Regions from separate parts of the Homo sapiens genome. Here all the other regions are linked to region 2. Evidence: fine-mapped expression QTL. A gene starts in region 2. Each other region holds a variant in brackets. All regions are shown on one strand. Distances are from middle to middle. Region 1 overlaps NAPA (NSF attachment protein alpha). Region 2 holds the start of DHX34 (DExH-box helicase 34). Region 3 has its middle 25 kb from the start of MEIS3. Region 4 has its middle 3.8 kb from the start of ZNF541. Region 5 overlaps DHX34 (DExH-box helicase 34).

Region 1 (5,100 bases), 160 kb before region 2:
TTTAGTCCTTACAAAATCCCCGTGGAGGTAGAGAAACTTGGGGGCTTAGAGAAGTTGACTTATTTGCCCAGCCCCACAGTAAGTGGGAGAAGTGGCATTCAAACCCAGTTCTGTGTGATTCCAGAGCCTTCTCACTTAGCCCCTTTGCTGTGCTACCACGGTAGTTTCTCCTCAAGGTTCATGACCATCTCTGGGCACTACATTTAGGAAGGATGTTGGCAAACTAGGTGTGTTGGAGAGCTGCCACCCTCTTAACTGTCCTCCCATGGCTGTTTTCTCCAAATATGTGAAAAAAAGAGCTGGTGTGTTCATCTCAGTTCCTTCCAGCTCCCAGAGGAGCTGACCTGGTGCTGTGGGAGTATGAGTGAGGTTAGGGCAGAGGGCAGGGAGGATGGGAGGCTGGCCTGACCGGAGCTTGTGTGCCTGGGAGCTGGGAGCACAGCCAGAGGCCAGCTTGGGAGGACCTGCTTGGCGGGCGGGAATCACTCAGGCACCTCCTCCTCTCTGATCTGGGTTTGCTTGTGTTCAACATTTCATAACCCACCTTTATTCAAGGTCCTTGGTAGCTGCCGGGACTGGAGAAGGGAGCGTTGCGGCTCAGCTTGTCCTTGGTGCCTCTCCCTTCCCCTTTGGGAACCCCAGCAATGACAGCATCCCACATTGAGGGGCCTCTGCCCCTGTCAAAGGGCAAGTCAGAGAGCCCGCACCTGGGACGCAAGGCGATGGGTGTCTGTGCTGTCGCCTGCCTTGGTGCTCAGATGCCACCCTTGCTCTTCATTATTTCTGGGCTGCCAGACGCTAGGGGGCTTTGATGCACCAGCAGCCACTGAAGGCGACAGCACCAGCCAGTTAGGAGAAGCTCAAAGCCATACCTGTTCCTCCCCTTGGTGATGGGGGCGCAGCTCAAACTTCTGCTCTGGAAGCAAAAAGACGGAGACTTCCTAACTACAGCACAGTGAGCCAGCAGCAGAAGGGGATGGCTGAGTCCAGGCACACTAGTTCCTCCTCCCTGCTGCGTGTCTCCTGGGGAATCCAGAGTGCCTGCTGTGCCGTTTGGGGATCCTGCAGGTTCTGAATGGCGGCTCTGTTCCCTGGGGCTTTTCCTCATCCCTGATGTTTCCCAGCCACCTCCCCTGTCCCCAAAATAGCCAAAATAAAAACTTCCTTCCTCTTGGATACAAACGTGTAGAGGGAGTTTCTTCATCTGTGAAATGAAAATCATGGTAACTGTTTCCTCAGGTGGTTTTAAGGATAAATGAGACGATGTGTGGGAAGTGGTGGGAGCACGTTGCCTGGCTCTGCTAATGTTTATTAAGGGCTCACTGTCATCTTTATTAGTAGGTATTGTCATTGGAAGTTGAGCTAGAAGTGCTGGAGAAATAGGTGGCAGAGGGTGTTCTGTATACAAACAGTGCATTCCTAAGATCAGATCTTGACAAATCAGTTCCTGTTTGAACTACCTGTAGGCAATAACGGCGGGACCCTGGGAGGGCCAGCTTGTCTGTACAGGGCCTGCCCAGGGCCTTGGCTGAGACTGGTGTGGGCACGAGCTTCCAGATTTCTCTCCAGACCGCCTTCCTCTGCAGAGCGTGCAGAAACCCCGGCGCCATTTCCAGTGGGCACCCTGGTGAATCACAGTGCCCTGCCAGCTGCCAAGATCCACAACTGAAAACTTGGCATCTCTTGCCCAGTCTCAGAGTGGAGTCTTTCCTGAGGGCACACAAGGTTTCTGGGGAATCCGAGAGTTCCTGGCTTTCCTGATGGATAGGACTTTGCTGCCTGGCCATACAAACATTTCCGTCTCCTTTTTGGGATGGGGCTACTGAGAGGCAAGGGTCTTTGAGAACACCTTTTAAGAAAAAGGAAGTACATTCGCCCTTGGTCTGTGGTGAAATGTAATCCCGTTGGGGTGCAGGAGGGCATCCGTATAAGAAAATAAGAAACAGGGCGCCTGCCAGGCTGTGTGC[C/T]GTGTGGCAGGTGAGATCCTGGCTCTGAGCTCATCTCGAAGGGCCGTGGGCCTGTATGTATTTTGAGCATTGTGCAGTAAGGGGTGGGGCATGGGAGGCCAGGACTCTGGAAGCCGAAGGAGGAGCATTACTTAGCTAATCTGGGATGGAGATGAAGCCCATGCTGCTATTCTGAAGTAGGGAAGCGTGCCTGGAATCGGTCCTCTGCGGGGCCTGATGAGAGGGATGCTCTCGTTTACTGAACGCCCGTGGTGTGGCCAGCTCTCTGCTGGGCACGCCGTGGGGTGCTGCCTGCAAGATTGCTCGTGCTTCAGCAGCCCTGCAAGGTGTGGAGTCTTATGCCTAGTTACACATAAGGAAACGCAGGCTGGCACACGATGAGCTGGCGCTGAGGCCAGGCCTGTCTGACTACTGTCAGCATTTATTTTATTTTATTTTATTTTATTTATTTTATTTTATTTTATTTTATTTTATTTTATTTTATTTTATTTTATTTTATTTTATTTTTACCACCACAAGAAACTCTCTAGAATTCCCATTCCTGGGTGGCAGGCACCCCTTTGAGCGTATTTCTCTTCCTTTGTGTAATAGCAACCATTGAGCACCTTTTCCATTCTGCGCTCTGTGCCAAGTATTGACTATGTGTCATTTCTAATCCTCACAAAGACTCCTCCCAGGCCAGATTCATTGTCTCCATTTTATTTCATTTTTCATTTTTTGAGAGACAGGGTCTTGTTCTGTTGCCCAGGCTGGAGGGCAGTGGCGCGATCATAGCTCATTGCAGTCTCAACCTCCTGGGCTCAAGTGATCCTCTCACCTCAGCTTCCCAAGTAGCTGGGACTGTAGGCATATGCCACCATGCCTGGCTAATTTTTAGTAGAGTTGGGGTCTCACTGTGTTGCCCAGGCTGGTCTCAAACTCGAGATCAAGCAACCCTCCTGCTTCGGCCTCCCAAAGCCCTGGGATTGTAGGTGTGAGCCACTGTGGCCAGACATGCTGCCATTTTGTAGATAAAGAATGGAATCTCAGCACTTTGGGAGCAGAGGCAGGAGGATTGCTTGAGCCCAGGAGTTCGAGACCAGTGTAGGCAACACAGGGAGACCCCATCTCTTATTTAAAAAAAAAAAGCCTCAGGGATAACTAGCCCCAGGTCGAACACTTAGCAAAGTACCTGAAACGGACTTCAGCCCAGGTCTCGCCACCCCAAAGTCATTCTCTTTCTACCCCTTGTCTTTGCCCAGACAGGCATGTCACAAGAGGGTCCTGTGGCGATTTCAGAGCTGGGCAGTTAGCCTGTGACACTTTATTCTTTCACCGTTGTTAACTGGGGCTTGTGGAGAGATGGGAAAGCAGAGCTGGGCTCAGGCCCCGCCCTGCAGGAACTCATACTCTGCTTGGTCAGGCAAGGCCCACTGCAGAGTGGCGGGAGGCAGCTGGTGGTTTCCCGCTTCCAGGTGATACTGGTGGCGGTGCCTTCAGGATGCTGAGCCTCTGGCAGCTCCCAGCTCCAGTGCAGTCAGTGGACTAGCAGGGCTGGTGGCCCCCGGCTCCCTGTGCCAGGGTGGACCCTGCACCACAGGCAGCCTTAACTTTTTCTGACGTTCCTTCTGCCTGTTGGCTTGTTACTGGCAGGCTCGGTAGGGGGCTGGCTTAATTCATACTCCTTTGCCTAGAGGATGCTCCACGCAGCCCCAGCAGAGAGCAGCCTCTGCTCGTGAGATGAGGGAAGCCTAGGCAGTACAGGCTCCCTGGCTTCTTTAATCTAGAGGAGGGGTGGGGGCAGGCAGGGACCTTGTCCTCCCTCCTTATTTTCCCAAGGAGCCTTGGGCATGGGGAAGGAAGCCTTCCTGATCACTGAGTGAGAGGCAAGGGCAGGACTGGATCCCCAGGGCCCCAGTCCTCTTTCCAAGCCCTGCTGCTTCCTGGCAGGGTAAGCTTGGACAAGCCCTCCGCCCTCTCTGAGCCCCAGCTTCCTCGCCTGTAAAGCAAGGGCAGCACCCAAAGGGCTCTCGTGAGGAGCTGTGGGCTCCTTCCAGGGGAGTGCCTGGGAGGCAGGGAACGCCATGCGCCAGCCGTGATTAAGGCACATGGTCTCGAGAGCCGTGCAGGAGGTGGGCTTACAGGGAAGACACAGGCATGTGACGGGCCCTAGGACACCTTCCCCACTGAGGGTGCTGACTGGAGACTTGGGGCAGTGGGCCTTAAGTCTGAGGAGGAAACCGTAGGCCTGTGGCTGTGGCTTCCACAGAGGCAAGAGAGATAGAGTGAGTCCAGGACCCGAAATGGGGGCCTGACTTTGTCCACCCTGCCTCGTGAGGTCCTTCGGGAGCTGCAGGTGGTGGGTCTCAGGGCATGGTGTATTTCTGGCAGCCAGGAAGTGCCTGGTGGATGGAGGAAGGAAGGAGGGGGCTAAGACTCTGCCCTGCACAACCCCCTGGCCCAGGTCCCATCAGGCATCTGTGTATTCCTGGCAGTGCCCAGCCTTCCATATGGCAGTCCCTGAGGTTGGTGGCTGTGTTTGGGAGACCTGAGACTCCTTCCTCCGCCTTGGAGGGGGAGAGAGCAAAGCTGAGCGGGTAATTATAGACAGCCCTGCATCAGGCAGCCCAAACCAGTTCCCTCTATTCCCGGAGTGGCTCAGAGCCGTGGGATGGGAGGAGTGAAGCAGAGGCAGCTTGGGGGAGGTCAGTGGGGGAGGGACAGTCAGCTGTCACATGCGCTGCCACCCAGGCCCTCAGGAGAGGAGGCCCAGCTAGATTTTCCTTTCGTGTACTGTTGTTATCTCCTGGCACGTAATAAATGCTCGGATACCTGTTCCCCAGGTGAATAAATGTGTATGTGAATGGCTTCTTCAGGATCTTCCACTGGAACCTAGGCACGTCACTTTCCCCCTTTGGGGACTTCACTCCCATTTCTAAAAGAAGAGGATGGGACCCTGGAGATCTCCTGTCATCCCCTGGCCATGGTAATGGGCAAGACCGCGGGGTGCAGGGGAAGAAGGAGGCAAGCCTGGGGCCTGAGCAGGTGTTAATCCCTCTGGCCTTTCCACCCCACAGAATCATTGACCCCGTGCAGGGTTGGCTGTGCTTAGCCTGGGATCACAGAGTTTCAGCCCGGGCAGCTGGTAGGCTTT
Region 2 (5,100 bases):
AAGTAACAAAGACCTGGCCAGTCTTAGTAGTCTACTCCCCCTCTAACCAAGGATTGGCCTGAGAAGCGGACACATGATCCAAGAAGGGCCAATCAGGGCCCTTTTGTGGAATTTACACTCGGTTGCTAGGACAGAAAAGCTCTCATTTTATCCATCATAATCAGGCAAGTTTGATATAAGCCTGGAGCTCTTTGTGGTAGCTCTGGAACATGACAGAGTCTTTCCTAAAATCTATCCTAGAGAAATAACTAGATACAGGCACAAGAATGGTCACTGCACCACAGGGAGAGGTGAAAGAGGGAGAGGAAGAGAAGCTTGGCAACATCATTTAGGTCTTGAAGCTTAGTTCCCTTCAACCCCCCACTTCTCAGCTACACCAGAAAATGCCTTTTTGCTTACAGTTGGAGTCTTTTTTGTTTTGAGATGGAGTCTTGCTCTGTCACCCAGGCTGGAGAAAAAAAATTAGCCAGGTGTGGTGGCGGGCACCTGGCTACTCGGGTAGTCCCAGCGACTCGGGAGGCTGAGGCAGGAGAATCACTCGAACCCTGGAGGCAGAGCTTGCAGGAAGCCAAGACTGAGCCACTGCACTCCAGCCTGGGCAACAGAGCGAGACTCTGTCTCAAAAAAAAAAAAAAAAAAAAAAAAAGAAAAAGAAAATGAGAGCATTCTTCTGAGGCTAGAAACTGCTTATGCATGCTGGGCCCCACTGACAGCATCCCGCTCCTCTCAAGGTATCTATCTTTTTTGGCTTCTAGATTGTCTGCATCTTCTAGTTTCTGTATAACTGTGTCTCTGACCATCTTTTGGTCTCTTGGCCTATTTGCCCTGGGCTCATGGCCTTCAGTGGGTTTGTTTCCCCCTCTGTCCCCTCCATCTCTCTCCACTCCATCTTCAGGCCTCTGTCTCTTTTTCAGTCCGTCTTGTTCATCATCACCCTCATCTCTCTTCCCTGTCCTAGTCAGCTCGCATCTCTCTTCACTTATGAGTCATTCTGTAGTCTGATTTTTCTCTGTAATCCAACTCTTCCTTTCTCCATCTCTCTTCAGTTCTCCATTTGACTTTCTCCATCTTTCTCATTAAAAAAAAAATGCTTTTTCAGGCCGGGCATGGTGGCTCACGCCTATAATCCCAGCACTTTGGGAGGCTGAGGCAGGCAGATCACCTGAGGTCGGGAGTGCGAGACCAGCCTGACGAACATGGAAAAATCCCGTCTCTACTAAAAATACAAAATTAGCCAGGGTGGTGGCACCTGCCTGTAATCCCAGCTACTCTGGAGGCTGAGGCAGGAGACTCGCTTGAACCCAGGAGGCAGAGGTTGCAGTGAGCCAAGATCGCACCACTGCACTCCAGCCTGGGCAACAAGAGCGAAACTCCATCTCAAAAAAAAAAAAAAAAAATTCATTTTTGTTTTTTTGAAACAGGGTCTCACTCTGTCACCCAGCCTGAAGTGCAGTGGCACAATCACGGCGTACAGCAGCCTCGACCTCCCAAGCTCAAGTGATCCTCCCACCGCAGCCTCCCAAAGTGCTGTGGATGACAGGAGTGAGTCACCACGCCCTTTCTCATTTTCTGTTTGAATCTTTTTTTCCTCCCTTTTGTCCTTCCAGTATTCACTCTCCATCACCACCTCTCTCCATTTCCCCATCTAATACTTTATCTCCCAATATCAGAAGCTTTAGTAATAGCTCATGCTTACTTACTCACATTAACACACAGACCTATCCTATCTGCATGATCTATTCCTATCCCACACCTATGTACATACACACACACACTTTTCTCACGACTGTCAGGCACTATGATCACCCCCTATTTTACTGAGCAATAGAGAGGCTAAGTGAGTAGCCGAGTGTTACATGAGCCACTCAAATCCAGGGGTTCGGGCTCCACTCCCTCGCTTTTCCATTTCTCAGCATCGTTCTCCATTATCTCCAGCTTTTGTGGGGTTCTTCCTATTTCAACTGTCTCCATCCTTCCGTATCTCTCGGTCTCCCCCGTGATTCAGTGTCTCGTTTCTCCATCTAAATTCCATTTTTTCTGTTTCTAGTGTCCACGATCAGTTTCCGACTTTTCCCTCCACTCCCCAAGTTCATGGGCGACCACGCCTCTCGGCCTCGTGGGCTCTAAGACTCTCGCTGGAACCCATCGGCACTCTCGCCCACGCTCTCTAGTTTTCAGCTTCCCTCCTCTCCCAACACCCTCGTCTTTCAGTCCCTCAGTTTCTCGAAGCTTCTTTTCGTGCCTCCATTTCTTTCGGTCTCTGGCCTGTCGCCCAGGTTCTCCCAGGGACGCTCAGGTGCCATCTCTGTCCGCGTTTGCCGGCCCTTCGGCTGCCTCCTACATTTCTCCTCATCTCGAGACTTCCCTCGCCCCTGGACTCGCACCCCAAACTACCCCCAAGCGGCCCAACTCCGACAGCCATCGCCGCCACAACCCGGTACACCCGTCCCGCCCCCCTCACTTACCACACGCCGCGAACGCCTTAACTTCCGGTCCCAAGAGCGCTAGTCTTGCGCCTGCGCACACAGCCATCTCGTTCTGACCCCGCCCCGCCACCACAGAAGAGCCAATCGGAAGCTCTGGGCTGCCCAAGACCCATCTTGCGCCTGTGCACAGCACGCTTCCGCCCCGCCTCGCTTGGGGCGGAGCCTCGAGTGATTGCGCCCTCTAGAGGCCAGTAGAGGCATTGCGGTACAGACTTGCAAGCGCCTCCTCCCCGGCCCCGCCCTCTCCTCCCCAAGCATAGCCACGTGCGCCTCAGCTCCGGGACGCCGGGGTTTTAACCCAAAGAGAGAGCTGGTCTGGGGCCCAGGAACTTTTTTTTTTCTTTTGAGACATAGTCTCACTGTCTCCCAGGCTAGAGTGCAGTGGCGTTATCTCACCTCATTGCAATCTCCGCCTCCCAAGTTCAAACCATTCTCCTGCCTCAGCCTCTCGAGTAGCTGGGATTACAGGCGCACACCACTACACCTGGCTGATTTTTGTATTTTTAGTAGAGACGAGGTTTCACGATTTGGGCCAGGCTGGTCTCCAGCTCCTGATCTCAAGTGATCCGCCCGCCTTGGCCTCCCAAAGCACTGAGATTACAGATGTGGGGCATCTCACTCAGCCTCTACCTCTTTTCTTTCTACAACCCCATTTTCTGTTACCTTTCTCTGCAATAAACTCAATCACACACATTCAGGAAGACCCCCAAGTATAGAAACAATCTCATTAGCCAGCAATGCACCCTCTCTTTTATTAACTGAAAGAAGAAACAGCTGGGCACGGCGGCTCACGCCTGTAATCCCAACAGTTTGAGAGGCCGGGGTAGGTGGATCACCTGAGGTCAGGCGTTCCACACCAGCCTGGGCAATATGGCCAACCCCTGTTTCTACAAAAAAATACAAAAGTTAGTCGGATATGGTAGTGTGTGCCTGTAGTCCCAGCTACTCAAGAGGCTGAGGTGGGAGGATCGATTGAACCTAGGAGGCTGAGAGACTGAGGCTGCAGTGAGCCATGATGGTACCACCGCACTCCAGCCTGGGTGACAGAGCCAGACTGTCTCAAAAAAAGAAAAAAGTGTTGTTGTTTTTTTTTTCTGAGACGGAGTCTCGCTGTCGCCCAGGTTGGAGTGCGGTGGCGCGATCTCGGCCCACTGCAGGCTCCGCCTCCCAGGTTCCCGCCATTCTCCTGCCTGAGCCTCCCGCATAGCTGGGACTACAGGCGCCCGCCACCACGCCCGGCTAATTTTTTGTATTTTTAGTAGAGACGGGGTTTCACTGTGTTAGCCAGGATGGTCTCGATCTCCTGACCTCGTGATCCGCCCACCTCGGCCTCCCAAAGTGCTGGGATTACAGGCATGAGCCACCGTGCCTGGCCAGAAAAAAGTTCTATGTCTAAAAAAAAGAAGGACTCTAAAGTTTTTGGCCTGAGCATTTGGAAATATGGAGTCACCATCTACTACCATCAGGAAGACGTGGGAGAGAGGCTAGAGAGAAAATCCGAAGATCTGTTTTCAGCATATTGTTTGAGTTATGCATTGGACATCAACTGGGGATGTCAAGTGGAACGTTGGATATAATTATCAAGCCTCTGGAAAACAACTTAGAGATAGAGAAGCCAATTCATACATTATTATCAAAAGAAGAAGAATAAATGGACTAAGCATTCTGCTTAAAATTTCCAAACAAGGCCAGGTGCGGTGGCTCACGCCTGTAATCCCAGCACTTTGGGAGGCCGAGGCAGGTGGATTACCTGAGGTCAGGAGTTCGAGACCAGCTAAGCCAACATGATGAAATCCCGTCTCTACTAAAAATATAAAAAATTAGCCAGGCATGATGACGGACACCTGTAATCCCAGCTTCTCGGGAGGCTGAGGCAAGAGAATCGCTTGAACCCAGGAGGTGGAGGTTGCAGTGAGCCAACATCGCATCATTGCACTCTAGCCTGGGCGACAAGGAGAAACTCTGTCTCAAATAAACAAACAAACAAATAAATAAATAAATAAATAATCCAAACAATAATTATAATTTTTAAAAAAGGAAAATTGGAGGAAATGAACAACAAATGGAAATCAACAAGAAAGCCACAGTCTATCAACCATAGGATTGTATAGCAAGCTTGAGACTAGTTCTTAGAGAAATTATTAATAACTTGGTTCTTTGAAAACTTAAGGAAATCAATATTTCTATGGTAAAAAAACAAATAGCAGAAATAGACAAACTTTAGAACAAAAAAGGGAAGTTATAGCAAAACAGATGGCTTTTAATAATCAAAGGTATTTTATGTAACATTGCACAGACTTAAATTTGAAAATTCCCGTGAAATGTATTCCAGTTCAAAAAAGAAGGGCTAATGATCTACAAAATGAAAACATTTCAAAAACCACAAAAGATGTTTTGTAAAAGTTATCAAAGAATGCTCCTAAGTGGCAACTGGTCCCAATAGATTAATGGGAGGATTTTGCAAACTTTAAGCCCCAAAGCGGGGTTTTAGCCCACGAGGGTTCTTGGCTTTGCCCAGAAAAGAATTCAAAGGTGAGCAGGGGCAAGGCAGGGGAAAACAGCTTGCTTTCTTTCCTTCCTTCTTTCTGTCTTTGTGTCTTTCCTTCTTTCTTAC
Region 3 (5,100 bases), 45 kb before region 2:
GTCCTGGGTGGGGGCAAATCCCTGAGCTTGATGTGTAGGGAAGGGAGGGGGCCTGAATAATCCCTGAGGAGTAGTAGAACAGCAGATGGAACACTGAGAAGTGATTTCCTTGAGGACAGATTTCCACGATGGAAAGAAAATGAGAGGTTCTAAGAGGCGGGCTAGTGGCTTGTACTATAGCATAGCCTGCCTTTGCTGGTGTGTGGCGATTAGGCCTGGTGGAACTGCCATCAGTAAATCAAGCGTGATCAGAGTGAGGAACAGGAAAGAAGGAAATATGGGGAAATGGGGTGAATATCAGGTGGATCAGAGAGATACAGTCATGGGGGTCAGGTGTGGTATCAGGAATAATGTGGGAGGCCAGATTGAAGTCCGGGCCAGGAACAATGGTAATTGTGGGACTTAAGAGTGAGTGCAGCTGAAGGAGCCGGGGAGCAGAAAGTACATGCGTCAGGTATGAGGAAGAAAATAGATTTTGGAAGTTATGAGAAATGTAGAGAGTGAGTTGAGCATAGTTTGTGATTTTTAGGGCCTCTAAAAGTATTAAAGCAGCGGCAGCCGCTGCACGCAGACATGAGGGCTAGGCTAAAACAGTAAGGTCAAGTTGTTTGGACAGAAAGGCTACAGGGTGCGGTCCTGGCTCTTGTGTAAGAATTCTGACCACACTAACCATGCCTAGGAAGGAAAGGAGTTGTTTTATAAGGGATTGAGGTTTGGGAGATTAATTGGACACGATCAGCAGGGAGAGCACCTGTGTTTTTATGATAATTATGCTGAGATAGGTAACAGATGAGGATGAAATTTGGGCTTGACTGAAGTAATGGGGGCTGTCTGTGAAGCCTTGCGGCAGTACAGCCCAGGTAGTTTGCTGAGCCTGATGGGTGTCAGGGTCAGTCCAAGTGAAAGCGAAGAGAGGCTGGGATGATGGGTGCAAAGGAAGAGTAAAGAAAGCATGTTTGAGATCCAGAACAGAATAATGGGTTGAGGAGGGAGGTATTGAGGATAGGAGAGTATATGGGTTTGGCACCATGGGGTGGATAGGCAAAACAATTTGGTTGATAAGGCACAGATCCTGAACTAACCTGTAAGGCTTGTCTGGTTTTAGGACAGGTGAAATGGGGGAATTGTAAGGGGAGTTTGTAGGCTTTAAAAGGCCATGCTGTAGCAGGAGAGTGATAACAAGTTTTAATCCTTTTAAAGCGTGCTGTGGGATGGGATATTGGCGTTGAGCGGGGTAAGGGTGATTAGGTTTTAATGGGATGGTGATGGGCATGTGATCGGTTGCCAGGGAAGGAGTAGAGGTATCTTATACTTGTGGGTTAAGGTGGGACACAAGAGGAAGACGCGAAGGAGGCTTTGGGTTGGGAAGAAGGGCGGCAATGAGATGCAGCTGTAGTCCAGGAACAGTCAGGGAAGCAGATAATTTGGTTAAAATATCTCGGCCTAATAAGGGAACTGGGCAGGTGGGGATAACTAAAAGGAGTGCTTTAAAGAGTATCGTCTAAGTTGGCACCAGAGTTGGGGAGTTTTAAAAGGTTTAGAAGCCTGGCTGTCAATACCCACAACAGTTATGGTGGCAGGGAAACAGGCCCTTGAAAATAAGGTAATGTGGAGTGGGTGGCCTCCATATTGATTAAGAAGGGGACGGACTTACCTTCCACTGTGAGAGTTGCATGAAGCTTGGCGTCTGTGATGGTCTAGGGGGCTTCCGAGGCGATCGGGCAGCATCAGTCTTCAGCCGCTAAGCCGAGAAGATCTGGGAAGCAGTCAGAGAGCCTTGGGCCAGAGCTTTAGGGGCTCTAGGAGTGGCTCCTGGGTGAGCTGGGCAGTCTGCCTTCCAGTGGGTCCCTGCACAGATGGGACATGGCTTGGAAGGAATCCTGGGCTGTGGGCATTCCTTGGCCCAGTGGCCAGATTTCTGGCACTTGAAGCAAGATCCTGATGGAGGAAGTCTTGTAGGAATGCTTGACTGCTGCTGCTTAGGCATTTTGAAGTTCTTGTAGCTGGAGGTATGGCTGGGTTTTGTCTCACAGCAGAGACAAGTAATTGTAACTCAGAAATGCGTTGCCATCTGGCTGCTTCCTCTCTATTATTGTACACCTTGAAGGCGAGGTTGCTTAATTCCTGTTGTGGGGTTTGAGGGCCAGATTCTAATTTTTGAAGTTTTTTCCTAATGTCAGGAGTGGACTGAGTGATAAAATGCATATTAAGAATAAGGCGGCCTTCTGGCCCTTCTGGGTCTAGGGCGGTATAGCGTCTAAGTGTTGCTGCTAAGTGGGCCACGAACTGGGCTGGGTTTTCCTCTTTACCTTGGGTAGTTTCTTTAAGTTTGTCATAATTAACAGCTTTGTAAGCTGCCTTTTTAAGCCCTTCAACTAGGTAGGAAACCATGTAATCTCACCTAGCTATACCTGGGGAATTTGCCTGA[T/C]AGTTCCATTGGGGACCCTCTCGGGGAACTGCTCTACTGCCTTCCTGGAGGTCTGGCTCATGAAGCCGGCGGTTATCAGCGTGAGATTGGGCTAGAGAAAAACTCTTTCCCACTCATCTGGGGAGAGGGCAGAAGTCAGGATGATATTAAGTCACTCCAGGTTAAGTTGTAGGACAGAGTTAGATATCGGAATTCCTGTATATGTTTAGTGGGGTCTGATGAGAAAGAGCCTAAACGCTGACTCACCTGAGAGAGGTCTGATAGAGAAAAACGTACATGTACCCTGACTGTGCCTTCAGCTCCAGCCACCTCTCTAAGAGGAAATTGTTGGGCAGGTGGGGAAGAGCTAGTCGTGGAACTAAACTGTAAGCTGGACAGGGTGTGAGGACACCCTGGGTGTGAGGACGACAGAAGGATTATCGGGTGGAGGAGCGGAGGCTGAGGAAGAATTGGGACTTAGCTCGGCCTGGCGAGGAGGGGAGAGGTCAGATGGGTCTGTAGAAAAGGAAGACTGGAAAGACTCAGCGACGCTTGGGGTTGGGACTGAGGGGACAGGCGGGAGGGAAAGAAGGAGGATTTGGGACGAGTTGCATTGGGAACAGAGACTAGAAAGGGACCGATGTGTAAAAGAATACCTGGACGTCAGGCACCTCAGACCATTTGCCCATTTTTTGACAAAAAATATTTAGGTCTTGTAGGATGGAGAAATCGAAAGTGCTGTTTTCTGGCCATTTAGAGCCATTGCCCAGTTTGTATTGGGGCCAAGCGGTGTTGCAGAAGAAAACAAGGGGTTTAGGTTTTAGGTCAGGTGTGAGTTGAAGAGGTTTTAAGTTCTTGAGAACACAGGCTAAGGGAGAAGAAGGAGGAATGGAGGGTGGAAGGTTGCCCATAGTGAAGGAGGCAAGCCCAGAGAAAAGAGAGCATAGAGACACGGAGGGAAGGGGTTCGGGGGTTCTTACCCTCCAGAAAAGTGGGAAAGGGGTCGGGATGTGGAAATAAGGGATTGGGGGTTCTTGCCCCCTAGAAAAGGTGGAGAAGGGGTAGAGACACAGAAGGGGTTGGGGTACTTGCCCCTCCCCCAGAAAAGCGGGACTTGCCGCTAAGGGTGAAAGACCAAGGCAGGCATCCCTGCGCGGTCTGACACCTCTGAAACCTGGGTGAATAATCAGAGAGGTGTCCCTGCAATGATTAAACACCAAGGGAAGGCTGCCTTCCCAGTCCGTGACCGGCACCGGAGTTTTGGGTCCACAGATAAAACGTGTCTCCTTTGTCTCTACCAGAAAATGAAAGGAATTGAAATTAAGAGAAGGGAGAGATTGAAGTGTGGTGCCAAGATTGAAAGGAGAAAGAGGTTGAGGGATAGTGAGGGAGGTTGGAGAAGAGAGTAAAAAGAGGCCGCTTACCGGATTTGAAATTGGTGAAATGTTTCTTGGGCTGGTGGGTCTGAGGACCTGAGGTCACAGGTGGATCTTTTCTCACGGAGCAAAGAGCAGGAAGACAGGGGATTGATCTCCCAAGGGAGGTCCCCTGATCCGAGTCATGGTACCAAATTTTATGCGCGTCCATGTGAAGAGACCACCAAACAGGCTTTGTGTGAGCAATAAAGATGTTTATTTCACCTGGGTGCAGGAGGGCTGAGTCGGAAAAGAGAGTCAGTGAAGGGAGATAAGGGTGGGGCCGTTTTATAGGATTTGGGTAGGTAAAGGAAAAAGGGGGGTTGTTCTCTGGCGGGCAGGAGTGGGGGGTCACAAGGTGCTCAGTAGGGGAGCTTTTGAGCCAGGATGAGCCAGGAGAAGGAATTTCACAAGATAGTGTCATCAGTTAAGGCAGGAACAAGCTATTTTCAATTCTTTTGTGGTGGAATGTCATCAGTTAAGGTGGGGCAGGGCATATTCACTTGTTGTGTGATTCTTCAGTTACTTCAGGCCACCTGGGCGTATACGTGCAAGTCACAGGGGATGTGATGGCTTGACTTGGGCTCAGAGGCCTGACAAGACTGAACTAGGGTTGGGATTGTGTGACAAGCTGGTCTCTATCAACCGTGTCTGTGTCCACGGCATTGTTGTGTTGCGATCGCGCTCCTCCTAGGTCAGAACTTACAGTGGGAGTTTGGGAGGCCGAAGTGGGTGGATCACCTGAAATCAGGAGTTCAAGACCAGCCTGGCCAACATGGTGAAATCCTGGCTCTTTACAAATACAAAAATTATGGTGGGCACGGTGGCTCTCGCCTGTAATCTCTGCACTTTGGGAGGCCAAGGCAGGCGGATCACTGAGGTCAGGGGTTCGAGACCAGCCTGGCCAACAAGATGAAACCCCATCTCTACTAAAAATACAAAACAATTAGCTGGGTGTGGTGGCGGGTGCCTGTAATCCCTGGCTACTCAGGAGGCTGAGGCAGGAGAATTGCTTGAACCTGGGAGGCGGAGGTTGCAGTGAGCTGAGATTACGCCACTGCACTCCAGCCTGGGTGGACAGAGCAAGAATCGGAAAGCCTGACTCCAATGGGGATAATTGGATCTCAGGGTGGCAGGGACCAAGTGACAGAACTTAATGACCAAAGGCAAGGTGGGTGGTTACCGCTTGGACAGCAGAGTCAGAGCAGCCACCAGAGTGCTATGACTTGGCCGGGCGGTGGTTCATGCCAGTAATCCCAACACATTGGGAGGCCCAGG
Region 4 (5,100 bases), 230 kb before region 2:
GGGTGAGGCAGGAGAATGGCTTGAACCTGGGAGGCGGAGATTGCAGTGAGCCCAGATGGCACCACTGCACTGCAGCCTGGGCGACAGAATGAGACCCTGTCTCAAAAAAAAAAAAAAAAAAAACACACACACACAAAACAGGCGGGGTGCAATGGTTCATGCCTGTAATTTCAGCACTTTGGGAGGCTGAGGCGGGCGGATCACCTGAGGTCAGGATGAGTTCTAGACCACCCTGGCCAACATGGTGAAACTCCGTCTCTACTAAAAGTATAAAAATTAGTTGGGTGTGGTGACGGGCGCCTGTAATCCCAGCTACTCTGGAGGCTGAGGCAGAACCTGGGAGGCGGTGGTTGCAGTGAGTCAAGATCATGCTATTGCACTGCAGCCTGGGAGACAGAGCCAGACTCCATCTCAAAAAAAAAAAAGGCTGGGCGTGGTGGCTCACGCCTGTAATCCCAGCATTTGGGAGGCCGAGGCCGGCAGATCACGAGGTCAGGAGATCGAGACCATCTTGACTAACACGGTGAAACCCCATCTACTAAAAATACAAAAATTAGCTGGGCGTGGTGTCGGGCGCCTGTAGTCCCAGCTACTCGGGAGGCTGAGGCAGGAGAATGGCGTGAACCCGGGAGGCGGAGCTTACAGCAAGCTGAGATTGCGCCACTGCACTCCAGCCTGGGCGACAGAGCGAGACTCTGTCTCAAAAAAAAAAAAAAACCCCAAAAAGTGGATACATTACTATTAACTAAATTCCAATCTTTGTTGAGATTTTTTCTTTTTTTTTTTTGAGACAGTCTTGCTCTGTTAACCAGATAGGAATGCAGTCCTGAGCTAAAGCAATCCTCTCGCCTTAGCCTGTGGAGTAGCTGGGACCACAGGTGTGTGCTACTATGCTTGGGTAACTTTTAAAATTTTTTCGTAGAGACAGGATCTCACCAAGTTGCCCAGGGTGGTCTTGAACTCCTGAGCTCAAGTGATCCTCCTGCCTTGGGGTCCCAAAGTGCTGGAATTACAGATGCCTGGCCTTTGTTGGAGATTTCTCTAGTTTTTTAAGTAATGTCTTTTTTTTTTTTTTTAGATGAAGTCACTGTCACTCTGTTTCCCAGGCTGGAGTGCAGTGGCACCATCTCAGCTCACTGACAGCAACTTCCACCTCCCAAATTCAAGCGATTCTCCTGCCTCAGCCTCCTAAGCCTTAGCTGGATTACAGGTGCCTACCACCATGCCCAGCTAATTTTTATATTTTTAGTAGAGATGGGGTTTCACCATGTTGACCAGGATGGTCTCAAATTCTCGACCTCAAGTTATCCACCTGCCTCGGCCTCCCACAGGGCTGGGATTACAGGCGTGAGCCACCATGCCTGGCCTATTTATTTATTTATTTATTTATCTTGTTCCAGGATTATTCAATCCAGAATCCAGGATCCAATCTGTTTCTTTCCTTTCTTTTCTGTTCTTTTTTTTGCTATTACAAACATTGCTGCTTGTTCTTCTGTTGCATCTCTTGGCGCACATGATCAAGAAGTTTTCTAGAGTTAACCCCTGGGTTTGTCAGTGTGGTTCTACCAATTTTACCTGTCACTAGTCCTGTATACTCAGTTCGTCTTGCTTCAGCAAACAGAAAAAAAAAAATGTTTTTTGATTCACCGAAGTGGTAGGTGTGCTGCGGTATCTTTGGTTTTAATTTGCATTCTCTTGTTGTTGTGGTTAGTCCTCACTTCATGTTTCCTCTTGTATGAAGTGCCTCTTCAAATCTTATATTCTTTTTTTTTATTAGGTTGTCACCTTAATTTGTAGGCCTTTAAAATAAATGCTAAATGCTTTTTTTTATTTGAGACAGAGTCTCGCTCTGTTGCCCAGCCTGGAGTGCAATGGTGCGATCTCGGCTCACTGCAGACTCAACCTCCCAGGTTCAAGCAATTCTCCTGTCTCAACTTCCTGCGTAGCTGGGATTACAGGCACGCACCAGCACACCTGGCTAAGTTTTGTATTTTTAGTGGAGATGGACGTTTCACCATGTTGGCCAGGCTGGTCTCGAACTCCTGACCTCAGGTGATCCACCTGCCTTGGCCTCCCAAAGTGCTGGGATTACAAGCATGCTTGGCTAATGCTAATTTTTTGTTTATGTGTTGCATTTATCTTCTGTGTCCATGAAGTGTTCAATGTCTATCAATGACAGAAGATGCTAATTTATTTCAGGAGCTTAAGTCCTGTTTTTTAACTA[G/A]ATTCTCATCTGTCCAGTGGCTAGGATCCTTATTTCCTCCATCAAGAAGAGAGATTACATGGCTGAAACAAAGCATTTTTAAAATGTGTGCTAAATAAGCGAAAAAAAAAAAGAAAACAAGAAAAAGAAAAGAAGGCCAGGCACAGTGGCTCTCACCTGTAATCCTAGCACTTTGGGAGCTGAGGCGGGTGGATCACGAGGTCAGGAGATGGAGACCATCCTGGCTAACATGGTGGAACCCCGTCTCTACTAAAAATACAAAAAATTAGCTGGGCGTGGTGGCACGAGCCTGTAATCCCAGGTACTTAGAAGGCTGAGGCAGGAGAATCACTTGAACCCAGGAGACAGAGGTTGCATTGAGCCGAGATGGTGCCACTGCACTCCAGCCTGGGTTACAGAGCGCGACTCTGTCTCAAAAGAAAAAAAAGAAGAAAAAGAAAAAAGAAAAAAAGAAAGAAAATAAAAGAAACAAACAAAAAACCCCACAAAACAAAAAGTGTGCTAAATAAAGGAAGAACCCTCTGAAATTGTTTCCAGGAGTTTAATTCCTGCCTTAGCATGACCTGTAAGTCCCTATGCCATCTGCCCCTAGTTTCTTCACTCACGTGGTTCTGGCCACACTGGTCTCTCTTCTTCTGATTTTTTTTTTTTTTTTGAGACAGAGTCTCACTCTGTTACCAAGGATGGAGCACAATGGCGTGATCTCGGCTCACTGCAACCGCTGCCTCCCAGGTTCAAGAGATTCTCATGCCTCAGCCTCCCGAGTAGCTGGGACTACAGGTGTGCACCACCATGCCCAGATAATTTTTTGTATTTTTAGTAGAGATGGGGTTTCAACATGTTGGCCAGGCTGGTCTCGAACTCCTGGGCTCAAGTGATCAGCCTACCTGGGCCCCCCAAATTGCTGGGATTACAAGCATAAGCCACCATGCCTGGCCTCTCTGCTGTCTTTCAAAAGGGTTCCACATCTTCCTGCCTCAGTGCCTGTGCACGTGCTGTTCCCTCTCTTCTTCCCCCAGATATTTTCATAGGACCCTTCCTTACTTCCTTCAGATCTCTGCTCAATGCAATCTCACCAGAGAAGCCTTTACTGACCTGTATAAAACAATACCCTCTGACCCCATCCTCTTTCCTTTGTTTTTCTTCAAGGTATAACATACTGCATTATAAATGTATTTGCAGCCAGGCACGGTGGCTCACTCCTGTAATCCCAGCATGTTGGGAGGCCAAGGCAGGAAGACTGCTTGAGCCTAGGAGTTCAAAACCAGCCTGGCCAACATGGCAAAACCCTGTCTCTACTAAAAATACAAAAAATTAGCTGGGTGTGGTGGTGCAGGCCTGTAGTACCAGCTACTCAGGAGGCTGAGGTGGTATAATAGCTTGGGCCCAGGAAGTCAAGGATGCAGCGAGGCATGATTACAACAATGCACTTCAGCCTAGGTGACATAGTGAGACCCTGTATCAAAAAAATACAACAAAAAAAGTAAATGCATTTGCTTGTCCCCCTGTAGAGGTATGCTGTCAGTACCAGAGCCACTCGCTACAAGGTTCCATGGAGCCCTGGAAATGTGGCTGGTCTGAATTGAGATGTCCCGTGAATGTAAAATACTGTATATGTGGGGTTTTAAAGACAGCCCCAAAAGTGTAAATTATCTCTTAGTTTTTATACTGATAATGTGTTGAAATATTTGGGATTAAATATTACCAAATTAATTTCACTTGTGTTTCTTTCTCTTTTATTTTATTATTTACTTTTATTTATTTGATTTTTAGGTTTGGGTGTGTTGCCCAGGCTGGTCTTGACCTCCTGAACTCAAGCAATCCTCCTGCCTCAGCCTCTCAAAGTGTTGAGATTACAGGTGTGAACCACCACACCCGTCCCAAGCCATTTTTTTTTTTTTTTAAGAGAATGGGTCCCACTATGTTGCCCAGGCTGGTGCAGTGGCTCTACACAGACAGGGCCATAGCTCACTGCAGTCTCCAACTCTTGGGTTCAAGTGATCCTCCTGTCTCAGCCTCACAAGTAGCTGGGCTACAAGTGCCAGCCGCCACACCTGCCTTCTTTACATTTTGTTCCTTTTAAACATGGCTACTAGAAAATGTAAAATTACATAAGTGGCTGGTGCTTGAAGTTTGCATTTTATTACTACTGAACAGCACTGCTCTAAAACATAAGTTCCAGGAGGAGAGGAATGTCTGTTTGACCCAGACACTATATCTGAGCACCTAGAACAGAGACCCAATAAAAACTTGCTAAATGAAGGGATCCTAAAGCAAGATGACAGGCCCTCTTCTTTCCTCTGTTTCCTCCCCCAATAATCAATTAAAAAAAAAAAAAACTTTGAGGTATAATTTACATAAAAGTCACTCACTTAAGTGTATACTTACTGATTTTTAGAAATTTACTGAGTTGTGCAACCATCACCATAACCCTTTTTTTCCCCCATCAGAGTCTCGCTCTATCCCCCAGTCTGGGGTGCAATGGCCTGATCATATAGCTCACTGCAGCCTTGGACTCCCAGGCTCAAGCGATCCTCCTGCCTCAGCCTCCCAAGTAGCTGGGACTACAGGCGCATGCCACCATCTCCAGTTAATTTTTTTTTTTTTTTTTTTTTAGAGACAGGGTTTCACTAGGTTGCCCAGGTTGGTCTCAAACTCCTAGGCTCAAGGGATCCTCCTACCTTGGCCTCCCAAAGAGCTGGGATTACAGGCGTGAGCCACCACGCCTGGCCCATAGCTCAGTTTTAGAATATTTCCATTACCCAGATAAGATCCGCGATGCCCCTTTCCACCCCGGGCAACCACTAATCTGCTCTCATTCTCCACAGATCTTCAGCACTCCGTTTCTAAGGAATGAATTATCTGCCTCAGTTGCA
Region 5 (5,100 bases), 32 kb before region 2:
TTAGGGTTTTTGTCTATGTTCATAAGGCTTAGAGTTTTCTTTTCTTGCATTGTCATAGCCTGCTTTTAGCAGCAGGATAATGCTGACCTCATAACATCAGTCAGGAGGCGTCCTCCCCTATGCTGTGGCCAAGTGGGTGTGGGCGAGTATCATTTCCATGTTTGGTAGACGTCACCAGGGAGCCCATCTGAGCCTGTTCTCTTTGTTAACTATGAATTACATTTCCTTAATAGAGTTGTTCCGGTTATCTATTTCTTCCTGAATGAGCTTTGGGTAGCTAGTGTCTTTCAATAATTTTTTCCATTTCAAATGAGTGAATTTCTGTGTGGCACGTTGTTTATCGTATTCTCTTCTCCTTTTCGCATCTGTAGGACCTACAGGTTGTCCTCCTTCCATTCCTATGCCGTGCCTTCTTTTTCTCCTGAGTGATTTTATTGTTCTTTTCATTTTCTTTTTTTCTTTTAGAGATGGAGTCTCGCTCTGTCACCCAGGCTGGAGTGCAGTGGCACGATCTCGGCTCACAAGCAACCTCCGCCTCCTGGGTTCTAGCAATTCTCCTGTCTCAGCCTCCTGAATAGCTGGGATTACAGGCACACGCTGCCACGCCCAGCTAATTTTTTGTATTTTAATAGAGATGGGGTTTCACCGTGTTGCCCAGGCTGGTCTCAAACTCCTGAGCTCAGGCAAACCACCTGCCTCAGCCTGATTTTTTTTTTTTTTTTTTTGAGATGGAGTTTCACTCTTGTCGCCCAGGCTGGAGTGCAATGGCATGATCTCAGCTCATTGCAACCTCTGCCTCCCAGGTTCAAGTGATTCCCCTGCCTCAGCCTCCCCAGTAGCTGGGATTAAAGATGCCCACCACCACACCCAGCTAAGTTTTTGTATTTCTAGTAGAGACAGGGTTTCACTATGTTGGCCAGGCTGGTCTCGAACTCCTGACCTCAGGCGATCCACCCGCCTCAGCCTCCCAAAGTGCTGGGATTACGGGAGTGAGCAACCATGCCCGGCTCAGCCTGTTCTTTTATTTTTTTATTACGGGAGTGAGCAACCATGCCCGGCTCGGCCTTTTATTTTTTTATTGTGAGTGGGTCTTATGGTGCAGCCTGTGGTCCCACGTGAACACCAGTGCTCCCAGCCCCCCTGCACAACTCTCAAAGTGACCCAGGTGGATGGGCAAATTCAGGGTCCCCCTACTTCAAGGGGTAGGAGAGACTGAGGATGGACTCAAGAGAGAGCGGCTGCGGAGGTGCTAAGAACCTGCACCTGGAATCTGGAGACATGGGAGGTCCCTGCTGGCTCTAACGCCCCTCCTACCCAGGACCCCTCAGGCAGCACCCTGCAGCAGGAAGAAGGAAAGCTAGACCCTGGGGAGGACTAACAAGGCAGCTGCTGCTTTCTGGATGGGCAGGTGCAGGCCTAACAGTGTGTATCAGCATGTGAGGCTTTATTCACAATCCGTGCTCCAGGCCCTCTGCACTGGGACAGGACCACAGGGCTAAGCCCAGGCTGGGGGTTCAGGCAAGAGTCCTGCCCCTAGTCCTGGGCTGGAGGGCAGGTCAGCTGCACGGAGGTGGGCAGGGCTCCTGGCCCAGCTCACACGTGCTGCTTCCGGTGGCGCAGCACCTCTGTGGGTGTAAAGAGGAAGTCCTTCCCGCAGGCCTCGCAGTGGTAGGGCCTCTGCAGGACAGATGTCTTCTGGAGGGTTTCGAGGGCAGCTTCCTCAGCCCCTAAGGGAGGAAAAGGAGGAGGCTGTGAGGGGCGTGTTCCAGTGCACAGGTCTACCTGCACCCAAATGCCAGGCACCTGTGGGGCTCAGGTTCTCTCCTGGCCTTTGGAGAACCCAGTTTTGCCTCCTCCAGGAAGCCCTCCCAGATTAATAAAAATACACAGGTCTGTCTTTACTCCGCATCCCTGCCAGTGAGAGAGACAGAGAGAAAGACACAAGGAGAGACATGGAGACTGAGAGGCAGACACAGCCAGCCGGGGATGGAGGCATGTGGCCCCAGTGCTATCTCCCCCACTGAACCCCAGTGTGTGGCATCCCTGGGTGACAACAGGGTGGAGGTGACCAAGGCAGAGATAGCTGCAGGACAGAGAAAAATAACAAGAGACATAGCCACAGAGAGACAGAAACAGAGACAAAGACAGCAACACAGAGACACCACAGGGGACAGGCAGACAGAAAGAGGTGGCGCTCCAGGCTCTCCCTGCCTTGGGCTCCTGATCTTCAGGACAAGGCCTGTGTGTGGCACCAGCCAGGGCCAGCGGGTGGAGGTCGTCAGTCCTCGAAGCTCTAGCAAGTGCTCACACGCACAGGAGACCATCATGGGATGGGCAGACGGCTGGGCAGAGGTGGCCGGGTCCCCACAGTCCTGTGCTTACCTGGGGGCCCATCCTGTGGGGCCTGGGGGCAGGTGTTCTCATGGGCGATGCGCTCCAGGGGCGTGAGGGGCGCATGCAGGCCACAGTGGGGGCAGGTCCAGAAGGTTCGGAGACAGTC[G/A]CTGTACAGGTCTGTGTCATTCTGTGGCAGGCCAGCTGTCAGGGCTGGGCCCCCGCCAAGTGCCACCCACCACCCAAGTGCCCCCCCGGGACCCTTCCCAGAAGCCCTCAGGGCCACGGGCCCCACTTGGGAACTATGTCCCTGGACTAAGGTGAAACGGGGTGGTGGGGTCTTCCTGAAATCCCACCTTCAGGGAAGGAGGGTTCATGCTTACCGTGAGGCAGTTGTAGGTGAGGAAGTCAGTGACTGCGTAGCCCCCCTTTGTGGGGTGGGGGGACAGGGTGGAGCTGCCAAAGAGGCCAGGAAGATGGGGGGTGGCTGGGATGGTCTGGGGTCCCACATACATGTTCTGGACTTCTAGCCCTGTGAGCCGCCGGAGGCTGTAAGGAATCTAAGGAAGGAGAGACAGGAAATGGAGAGAGACAGACTCAGGGAGATGCCGCCAAAGCACCTGGATCCAGCTGTGCCTGAAGCCCTCCCTCGGGCTTTGCAGTTACGGGAGCCAAGTGCTTACACCAATCACAATTTGGCTGCAGACACACATGACCAGGGGTCTGTCTAGAATATACCTGATAACCCACCCCCATCTAAATTGCCCTCCCCAGGCCCCTCTTCTGCCCCTGTCACTGGTGGGACCCCATTCAGACCTTGAGTCTAACCTTCAAGTCTGGCCACCTCCCCCCTCCTCCTCCTAGCATGTCAGCCTTGGTCCCCTCTCCATGGCTCACTGGGTTCCTGCTCCTTTGTCCTCAAGCCCTTCTACTCCAGGAAGTCAGCCTGGATTGTACCCTTCTCCCCACCCCACCCACATGAAGTAGAACCACGAGCAATTTCCACTCCCCACCTAAGAGTCAGGGGCTGGTTTCAAGTCTGCTCAGTTCAGTTCTTCCCATCCACAAGCAGACGTCTACGGCTTCCCTCTCACACCCTGCCTGTCCTTTACTGTTAGCAAGAGGGGATCAGCCACGCTTGCAGAAGGTGCTTAGTAAACAAGGCAGCAGTGGGTAGTGTGGCCTCTGGAACCAGGCTCCTGGGATCAAATCCTAGCTCCACCCAGACCAGTGGAGTGACCTTGTGTAAGTGACTGAACCTCTGTGGCCTGAAAACCCCCAAATGTGCCCATGTGGAGTGAATGGGAAGCCAGGCCTTCCCGAGGCTCAAGCCCAGTGACGGATGCCCCTTCTGGCCATAGGGAGGCACGGGCACCCTGGTGGAGGGTACCTTGGATGCCGTGAATTGCAGGAGTTCCTTGCTCAGGGTGGCCACCTCCTTGGGGCTGACTGGCGTATCCTCCTCCTCCTCCTCCAGCTGCTGCTGGGCCTGGTGCGCCAGCTGCCGGTCCAGGGCACTTTCCCAGCGGGCACGGAGCCGCAGGGAAGCCGCCAGGAGTCGGATGGCACTTTCACTGTCTGCTAGCTGCAGCTCCAGCCAGCCATCGGCCACCAGGCGGGAGCAGTCACCATTGGTGTCCAAAGACCGGCTAAAAAGCAGGAGGGACTGAAAGAGAGGGGGCAGAAGACAGGGAGTAGGTGGGAGGGGCAGGGCGCTATTGGAGACAGGCCCTGCCCGGCTGGGCTCCTGCCCACCCACCAGCCCTGTCTATGTGAGGCATCCACCTACCCGCCATCTACCCGCTGTACCAGGCACCCCTTCGGGTGCTGGGGATACGGCATGAACAAGGCAGCCGCTGAGTCAGGGAAGGGGGCTGGGGTGGCGGGGCGGCAGATGGGAGCGTGCTGGGAGAGAGACAGCTGCATTCTCAGGCAGGGTGGCAGAGGGACAGCAGGCACTCAGACACACACGACGTGCAGGGAGAGCCCAGACCCTGAGCACACGCTCCTCTGTGAGGACGGAAGTCAGCGCTGTAATTACCAGTGCTGTGGCTCATAAGATGTTGGGGAAAATCCTCAGGGCTGGGGCCAGGGCAGAGGAAAGGGCAGGACTGGCCATGCGTGGATGGTTTGGGGACCGGGGATGGTACAGGAGGGCTCCATATACTGTTCTGCCTGCTTATGTGAATGTGAAGTTTCTCCATCTTCTTCTTCTTATTATTATTATTATTAATTTATTTATTTATTTGAGATGAGTCTCACTCTGTTGCCCAGGCTGGAATGCAATGGCGCAATCTTGGCTCACTGCAACCTCCACCTCCCAGGTTCAAGCGATTTTCCTGCCTCAGCCTCCCTAGTAGCTGGGATTACAGGCACGCGCCACCCACCCGGCTAATTTTTGTATTTTTAGTAGAGATGGGGTTTCACCACATTGGCTAGGCTGGTCCCAAACTCCTGGCCTCAACTGATCCACACACCTCGGCCTCCCAAAGTGCCGGGATTATAGGCGTGAGCCACCATGCCCGGCTTATTATTTTTTGAGACAGTGTCTCACTCTGTCACCCAGGCTGGAGTGCAGTGTCAACAATCACAGCTCACTGCAGCCTCAATCTCCCAGGCTCAAGCAATCCTCCTGCCTCAGCCTCCCGAGTAGCTGGGATTACAGGCACACAACACCACGCCCAGCTAACTTTTTAAAATTTTTTGTAGAGATAGATAGAGTCTCCCTATGTTGCCCAGGCTGCCTTTGAACTCCTGGGCTCAAACAAT

Evidence for each region.
Region 1: its variant is fine-mapped to the expression of DHX34 in whole blood (GTEx, PIP 0.94).
Region 3: its variant is fine-mapped to the expression of DHX34 in nucleus accumbens (GTEx, PIP above 0.99).
Region 4: its variant is fine-mapped to the expression of DHX34 in cerebral cortex (GTEx, PIP 0.99).
Region 5: its variant is fine-mapped to the expression of DHX34 in whole blood (TOPMed, PIP above 0.99). The same link has a PIP of 0.9 or more in cerebellar hemisphere.

The regions. Positions count from the first base shown.
Region 1 is chr19:47,506,664-47,511,763 of GRCh38, reverse strand. All of the region lies in intron 1 of NAPA (NSF attachment protein alpha), which reads left to right. Among named protein-coding and RNA genes, the nearest start is that of NAPA, 5.8 kb to the left of the region's middle. The variant C/T (reference allele first, on the strand shown) is at 1,968.
Region 2 is chr19:47,346,718-47,351,817 of GRCh38, reverse strand. DHX34 (DExH-box helicase 34) reads right to left here and starts at 2,503. Exons shown (of 17, transcript NM_014681.6): 1 at 2,466-2,503. C5AR2 (complement C5a receptor 2) reads right to left here. Exons shown (of 2, transcript NM_001271749.2): 2 at 4,489-5,100. RefSeq lists an enhancer at 1,759-2,663.
Region 3 is chr19:47,392,150-47,397,249 of GRCh38, reverse strand. No RefSeq gene overlaps it. Among named protein-coding and RNA genes, the nearest start is that of MEIS3, 25 kb to the left of the region's middle. RefSeq lists enhancers at 3,648-4,295, 4,296-4,942. The variant T/C (reference allele first, on the strand shown) is at 2,429.
Region 4 is chr19:47,574,419-47,579,518 of GRCh38, reverse strand. No RefSeq gene overlaps it. Among named protein-coding and RNA genes, the nearest start is that of ZNF541, 3.8 kb to the right of the region's middle. RefSeq lists an enhancer at 1,565-1,644. The variant G/A (reference allele first, on the strand shown) is at 2,225.
Region 5 is chr19:47,378,607-47,383,706 of GRCh38, reverse strand. DHX34 (DExH-box helicase 34) reads right to left here. Exons shown (of 17, transcript NM_014681.6): 14 at 3,722-3,997; 15 at 2,715-2,891; 16 at 2,383-2,521; 17 at 1,003-1,727. The coding sequence ends at 1,594. Among named protein-coding and RNA genes, the nearest start is that of DHX34, 32 kb to the right of the region's middle. The variant G/A (reference allele first, on the strand shown) is at 2,501.